Homo sapiens: one gene and its partner. The protein of the gene in region 1 interacts with the protein of each later gene in a pairwise test. Each region holds a gene or a part of one and is shown in the gene's direction. Other genes may lie near its edges. The genes, in order: CYB561A3 and AOC1.

What was found.
Region 2: the proteins of CYB561A3 (region 1) and AOC1 interact in a two-hybrid assay, tested with the Homo sapiens proteins (one large-scale study listed by BioGRID).

Annotation. Positions count from the first base shown.
Region 1 is NC_000011.10:61,351,600-61,355,413, reverse strand, and holds part of CYB561A3 (lysosomal membrane ascorbate-dependent ferrireductase CYB561A3), read left to right. Parts: intron 1-1,421; coding exon 1,422-1,630; intron 1,631-1,851; exon of another isoform or gene 1,852-1,982; coding exon of another isoform or gene 1,983-2,040; exon of another isoform or gene 2,041-2,231; coding exon of another isoform or gene 2,232-2,274; coding exon 2,275-2,429; coding exon of another isoform or gene 2,430-2,554; intron 2,555-3,814. UniProt on the Homo sapiens protein: Transmembrane reductase that uses ascorbate as an electron donor in the cytoplasm and transfers electrons across membranes to reduce iron cations Fe(3+) into Fe(2+) in the lumen of the late endosome and lysosome.
Region 2 is NC_000007.14:150,858,676-150,862,233, forward strand, and holds the end of AOC1 (diamine oxidase [copper-containing] isoform 2 precursor), read left to right. Parts: intron 1-87; coding exon 88-373; intron 374-1,768; coding exon of another isoform or gene 1,769-1,825; coding exon 1,826-1,958; intron 1,959-2,267; coding exon 2,268-2,534; 3' UTR 2,535-2,829; downstream 2,830-3,558. UniProt on the Homo sapiens protein: Catalyzes the oxidative deamination of primary amines to the corresponding aldehydes with the concomitant production of hydrogen peroxide and ammonia.

The DNA of each region.
Region 1 (3,814 bases):
GCCACTGCGCCCAACCTGGGATCCATCTTTGTAATCTTTGTCCCATGCTTTCAAATCTGTGCCTTGGGGCCCTGGTGAGCCTCATTTTCCCCATTTGTAAAATGGCAATACGATGCCATTGATGATAGCAGCTTACCATGTGCAGTTCACATATATCATCCCATTTTGTTCTTACAAGTTTGTGAGGTGGGCTCTGTTATATCCCTTTTACAGATGAGGAAATTGAGAGTTAGACAGGAGAGGCCAGGCCAGGCGTGGTGGCTCACGCCTGTAATCCCAGCACTTTGGGAGACTGAGGTGGGCGGATCATGAGGTCAGGGGATCGAGACCATCCTCGCTAACACAGTGAAACCCCGTCTCTACTAAAAATACAAAAAATTAGCCGGGTATGGTGGCAGGCACCTGTAGTCCCAGCTACTTGGGAGGCTGAGGCAGGAGAATGGCGTGAACCCGGGAGGCGGAGCTTGCAGTGAGCTGAGATTGCGCCGCTGCACTCCAGCCTGGATGATAGAACGAGACTCTGTCTCAAAAAAAAAAAAAAAAAAAAAGAAAGGAGAGGCCAAACAGCTAAGAGGCAGAGCCTGGATTTGGACCTATGTTGCCTGACCTTAGTACCTGTGTTGACAGCCAGCCTCACTTGTGACAATTCAGTTTGATGAAACAATGACTGTCATGATGCTTTTTAGCCTAGAAACTGCAAACAAGCTGAATTTATTATTGTGAAAATAGAATGAGAGGTCCAAGAAACCTGCTTCCCCCCTCCACTTTTTTTTTAGGAGACAGGTTTCCCTCTTTTTCAGGCTAGAGTGCAGTGGGATGATCATAGCTTGCTGCAGCCTTGAACTCTTAGGCTCAAGTGATCCTCCCACCTCAGTCCCCCAAGTAGCTGAGAGAACAGGCATGTGCCACCATGCCCGGATAATATTTTTTATTTTTATTTTTTGTGGACACAGGATCTTGCTATGTTGCCCAGGCTGATCTTGAACTTCTGGCCTCCCAAAGTGCTGACATGAGTCACCGTGCCCAGCCCTCCTCCCTTTTTAATTGGAATCTGTTTATTTATTTATTTCTCTCTGTGGCCCAGGCTAGATTGCAGTGGCATGATCATAGCTCACTGTAACCTCAAACTCCTGGCCTCAAGCAGTCCTCCCACCTTGGCCTCCCAAAAAGTGCTGGAATTACAGGCATGAGCCACCTTGCCTGACCACTCCTCCCTTTTTAACTGGCCCTTCTCTCCTCCCTTCATGGCTGTTATCCCACAAATCATGGGAGGGTAGAAGATGCCGAGGAGTTGATACCAGTGCCCTAGCATTTCCTGTTCCCTTGCTGGGAAGCTGTGTAGGATCCTATCAGGGTTATTCCCTGATGTCTGGGTGAGCTCGAGGGGAGAGGCTGAGCCCTGGCACTACTCTCTCCTGCAGCGTCACTGGTGTACCGCCTGCCCCAGTCGTGGGTGGGGCCCAAACTGCCCTGGAAACTCCTCCATGCAGCGCTGCACCTGATGGCCTTCGTCCTCACTGTTGTGGGGCTGGTTGCTGTCTTTACGTTTCACAACCATGGAAGGACTGCCAACCTCTACTCCCTTCACAGCTGGCTGGGCATCACCACTGTCTTCCTCTTCGCCTGCCAGGTGGGTTCTCTCTGTTCTCCTCCTCGAGGTTCCCAGAGCCATGAGCTCTGGTTGGGGGTTCACTTGCATGAGCACCAAATATTCCTCTGCTCACTGCTTGGAGAGGGACTTGCAGATTGTTATCTTGTAGAACTGACAGTTTATTCAAGGGCTGTGGGAGGTCAGTGGCCTGAACTTACCCTGTTCCTTTTATCCCTCCCATTGCCCGTCTCTCGTCCCAGAGCCCTCTCTGCTAACTTTGTCATGGCACGCACTATGCTGACTCTAATCAGCCATCTGGCTTCCACTTTCCCCACTCCCACCTCTGTGAACCAAAAGAATTCTTGAAGTGGTTTCCATATTCTGATCTCAGGCCTGTGCGAGTGAAGAGTTTTATGAGCAAGGACTGGAAGGAACCAGAGACAAACAAGGTGGTTGGGTTTGCTGGGAGTGGGATGGTAGCTAAGCATGTCATTTACTGTTCTTGTTGCTTGGGTAATAGGCCACAATGAGGAAGCTAGCACGGTAGTGGGCAATGCCAGGTGGGAAGGTTTGAGTTGTGAAAGAAGAGCCAGGGAGCAGAGATGGGGAGGAGGCACTGATGGGGTGGGATGTGCTTTGGTCACACATAGCACAGTCGGGTGTGTCCTCCCTTTTGTCCACAGTGGTTCCTGGGCTTTGCTGTCTTCCTCCTGCCCTGGGCGTCCATGTGGCTGCGCAGCCTCCTAAAACCTATCCACGTCTTTTTTGGAGCCGCCATCCTCTCTCTGTCCATCGCATCCGTCATTTCGGGCATTAATGAGAAGCTTTTCTTCAGTTTGTGAGTGCAGTGGGGTCCCCAACTCTAAGGTGAAGAGGAGGGAATAGGGTCTTCAAAAGATACACCCTGTGATCACAGGACTCACCCAAGGGAGGAGAGATTTTGGGGTTGGGTCCACTCCTGATCTGGAAGGTAACAGAATTGATCTTTCTTTAGGTTGAAATTGGTAAGTCAGCAGATATTTATTGAGCATCAGTTTGATTTAGCACCTGCTGTGTGTCAGAAACAGTACTAAGCACCTTACATTTAATCCTGTCAACCACCCTACATCATTGGTATTGATTGGTATTGTTGTCATTGCCATTTTCTTTTTTCTTTTTTTTTGAGATGGAGTCTCACTCTGTCGCCCAGGCTGGAGTGTAGTGGCACAATCTTGGCTCGCTGCAACCTCCACCTGCTGGGTTCAAGCAATTCTCCTGCCTCTGCCTCCCAAGTAGCTGGGCCTACAAGTGTGTGCCACCATGCCCGGCTAATTTTTTGAATTTTTAGTAGGGACGGGGTTTCACCATGCTGGGCAGGCTGGTCTCGGACTCCTGACCTCATGATCTGCCCGCCTCGGCCTCCCAGAGTGCTGGGATTACAGGCATGAGCCACTGCACCCGGCCGTCATTGCCATTTTCAATTGAGGGAACAGATTCTGCAATAGGACTGTTCAGGTAGAAATAAAAATAAAAAAAATGAGGGAACAGAGGGGTTACGTAACTTACCCGAGGGCACACAGCCAGTAAGTGGCAGAGCTGGGACTCAGATTAGGCAGTCTGACTCTAGAGCCTTGCATGCCTGACCACTACTGTCCGTTCTTTTGAGGCAATGGGGTGTAGTGAAAAGCAACTAGGACTTAAGGTCAGACCTTGGTTTCGATCTTGGCTGTGCCATTTACTAGTTATGCAACTTTGGGCAAGTTAATTTCATTGCTTTGAGCTTCAGTTTCCTCATGGGTAAAAGGATTATTACAGCTGGGTGCCGTGGCATGCACCTGTAGTCCCAGCTACTAGGGAGGCTGAGGTGGAAGGAGTCCAGCCTGGGCAACATAGGAAGACCCTCTCTCTCTCCTTTTATCCCCCCAGCCAAGAGATAGCATCTCACTCTGTTGCCTAGGTTGGAGAGCAATGGTGTGACCATAGCTCACTGCAGCATCAAACTCCTGCACTCAAGCGATCTTCCCAATGTAGCCTCCTAAGTAAGCTAGGACTACAGGCATGGACCACCTCACCTAGCTAAGTTTTATTTTTGTAGAGACAGGATCTCACTATGTTGCACAGGCTAGTCTCCAACTCCTGGGGTAAAGCAATCCTCATGCCTTGGCCTCCCAAAGTGCTGGGATTACAAGAGTGAGCCGCTGCACCTGGCTCATTATACAAATATTTGCAGGGACTTAGAAAGGG
Region 2 (3,558 bases), on another chromosome or scaffold:
GTGGAGGATGGAGATCCTGGGGTAGAATGAGGAGGTTTCAGTTCTGGCAGCTTGATTCTCGTTCTCCTTCTCCCTGCATACCTCCAGGCACCAAGAACAGCTTCCAGACACTGCAGATGAAGCTAGAAAACATCACCAACCCCTGGAGCCCAAGACACCGCGTGGTCCAGCCAACTCTGGAGCAGACGCAGTACTCCTGGGAGCGCCAGGCGGCCTTCCGCTTCAAAAGGAAGCTGCCTAAGTACCTGCTCTTTACCAGCCCCCAGGAGAACCCCTGGGGCCACAAGCGCACGTACCGCCTGCAGATCCACTCCATGGCCGACCAGGTGCTGCCCCCAGGCTGGCAGGAGGAGCAGGCCATCACCTGGGCAAGGTGAGGAAGACCCAGGGGGCCTGGGGGAGGGTCAGTGGCTTCCCTCAGTGTGTGTGTCTGTGTCTGTCTGTGTTTGTGTCTATGGGGTTCCTAGTCTATGTGGATATACACATATACGTATGTGTATATCTGTGTGTACAATTGACCCTGAACAATATGGGGGGTAGGGGTGCCAACCCCCCAAAGCAGTAAAGAAGCCAAGTGTAACTATGACTCCCCCACAACGTAACTACGAATAGCCTACTGTTAACCGGAAGCCTTACCACTAACAGAAACATTCCGTGAACACATATTTTGTAGGTTCTGTGTGTCAGATACTGTGTTCTTACAATAAAGTAAGCTAGAGAAAAGAAAATGTTATTAATAAAATCCTGGCCGGGCACGGTGGCTCACGCCTGTAATCCCAGCACTTTGGGAAGCTGAGGCAGACAGATCACGAGGTCAGGAGATCAAGACCATCCTGGCTAACACGGTGAAACCTCATCTCTACTAAAAACACAAAAAATTAGCTGGGCATGGTGGCAGGCACCTGTAGTCCCAGCTACTTGGGAGGCTGAGGCAGGAGAATGGCGTGAACCCGGGAGGCGGAGCTTGCAGTGAGCCGAGATCACACCACTGCACTCCAGTCTGGGCAACAGAGCAAGACTAGTTCTCAAAAAAAAAAAAAAAAAAATCCTAAGGAAAAGAAAATATATCTACAATCCATTAAGTGGGAGTGGCTCATCCCAAAGGTCTTTATCCTCGTCTCCTTCACTTTAAGTGGGCTGAGGAAGAGGAGGAGGAGGGGCTGGTCTTGCTGTCTCACGGTGGCAGAGGCGGAAGAAACTCCAAATGAAAGTGGACTTGTGTGCTGGGCGCAGGAGCTCACGCCTGTAATCCCAGCACTTTGGGAGGCCAAGGTGGGCAGATCACCTGAGGTCAGGAGTTCGAGACCAGCCTGGCCAACACAGCGAAACCCTGTCTCTACTAAAGATACAAAAGTTAGCCGGGTGTGGTCGTGGGCGCCTGTAATCCCAGCTACTCGGGAGGCTGAGGCAGGAGAATCACTTGAACCTGGGAGGCAGAGGTTGCAGTGAGCCAAGATCGCATCACTGCACTCCAGCCTGGGTGACAGAGCAAAACTCCATCAAAAAAAAAGAAAAAGAAAAGAAAAGAAGGAAGGAAAGAGAGAGAAAGAGGACCCATGCAGCTCACACCTGTGTTGTGCAAGGGTTGCCTGCTGTTCTGGGCCTGTGTCTCTGTGCATTTGGGGAGGGGGGCGGGGAGGACTCCTGTGGGTCACCTGAACCCGGTTAACAGCAGCCCGTCCTGCTGACTCCCAGGACAGATGATCTGTCATCTTGGGGAAGGCAATCATCTTCCTCTATTCTGACCCTGAGGCTGTTCCCTGGGCAGGACTGAGGGGGGCCAGCCCAGGGCCCTGAGCCAAGCTGCTTCGCCTGTGCCTGGCAGGTACCCCCTGGCAGTGACCAAGTACCGGGAGTCGGAGCTGTGCAGCAGCAGCATCTACCACCAGAACGACCCCTGGCACCCGCCCGTGGTCTTTGAGCAGTTTCTTCACAACAACGAGAACATTGAAAATGAGGTACTGCCCTGTCCCCAGCCCTGCCCGGTGCTGGCCCTGCCTCCTTCCAGCTCAGCCCAGGACCATCCTCATCACCATCAGGGAGTCCCAACCACCCTTTGCCCAGATCTGTCCCCAGTCGCAGGAGCTGTGCCTTGCTGTGTGGACGGCAAGTTCAGAGGTCACAACAGAGCTGCTCATCTCTTTAAAAAGGGGCTGGAGAGGAATTCAGCAAGTTTCCAGGCAGAACTGAAAATGACCAAAGGCTAGAGTGGCCTCCAGTGGTCAGTACTCAGCCCTGCCCACTGAAGCCCACCCTGTCTCCTGCAGGACCTGGTGGCCTGGGTGACGGTGGGCTTCCTGCACATCCCCCACTCAGAGGACATTCCCAACACAGCCACACCTGGGAACTCCGTGGGCTTCCTGCTCCGGCCATTCAACTTCTTCCCAGAGGACCCCTCCCTGGCATCCAGAGACACTGTGATCGTGTGGCCTCGGGACAACGGCCCCAACTACGTCCAGCGCTGGATCCCTGAGGACAGGGACTGCTCGATGCCTCCCCCTTTTAGCTACAATGGGACCTATAGACCTGTGTGACCAGCCCCCAGTTCCTCCCCCAGTTCCTCCCAGGAAGCCCAGGAGCCTCACTGGGGCAGACAATAAACCCTCAGAGCCTCGCTCTGTGTGCTGCTTCTTGCGGGGAGGCACAGGGCCATGTGTGTAGGAAACACACGAACAGACGTGCACACACACAGACGTGCACACACACACAGACATGCACACACACACAGACGTGCACACACACAGACGTGCACGCACTCACACGGACATGCACACACATGGCATGTACTTTATTCACACTGGTCTACTGCAGTCCAGAAAAGCCACCATTACTAACAAAAAGGAAGCTCGCTGAAATCCTGCACCTATCAGATTGTTTTTTTAAAATCTGAGACTGGCCAGGCACGGTGGCTCACGCTGGTAATCCCAGCACTTTGGGAGGCTGAGACGGGAGGATGGGAGGATCACTTGAGTCCAGGAGTTCAAGACCAGCCTGAGCAACACGCTAAACCCCATCTCTCCTAAAAAATACAAAAAAAATTAGCCAGGCAGGGCAGCATACGCCTGTAGTCCTGGGGCAGAGGGGGTTAGATAGGAAGATCTCTTGAGCTGAGAAGCCGAGATCACGCCACTGCACTCCAGCCTGGGCAACACAGACACAGTGAGACCCTGTCTCAAAAAAAAAAAAAAAAAAATCTGAGAGTGACAACTTTCTCTTGGGGAGGCTGCAAGGGAATTTCCCAGTGTCAGTGACAGGCTTGCAAAATGGCACAACCATAGAGAAGATGCTACAGGGAGATCTAGCAGGATCACCATGCCTTTATCCATTGGCACACTGGCCCAACCTCAGGGGGTTTATCCCCAAGATCCACCTGTAAACACAGGAACGACATATGTACAAAGTGATTCATTGCAGCATTGTTTGTAACAGCGAAAGTCTGGAAACAACCAAATTCTCATCTGTAGAAAACCCCAATTGAATGAACTGTGGCACAACCTCACAGTGCAATTCTAGCTGATTGTAAGAGAAACACACGAATGAGGATACTCTGTGTGCTGA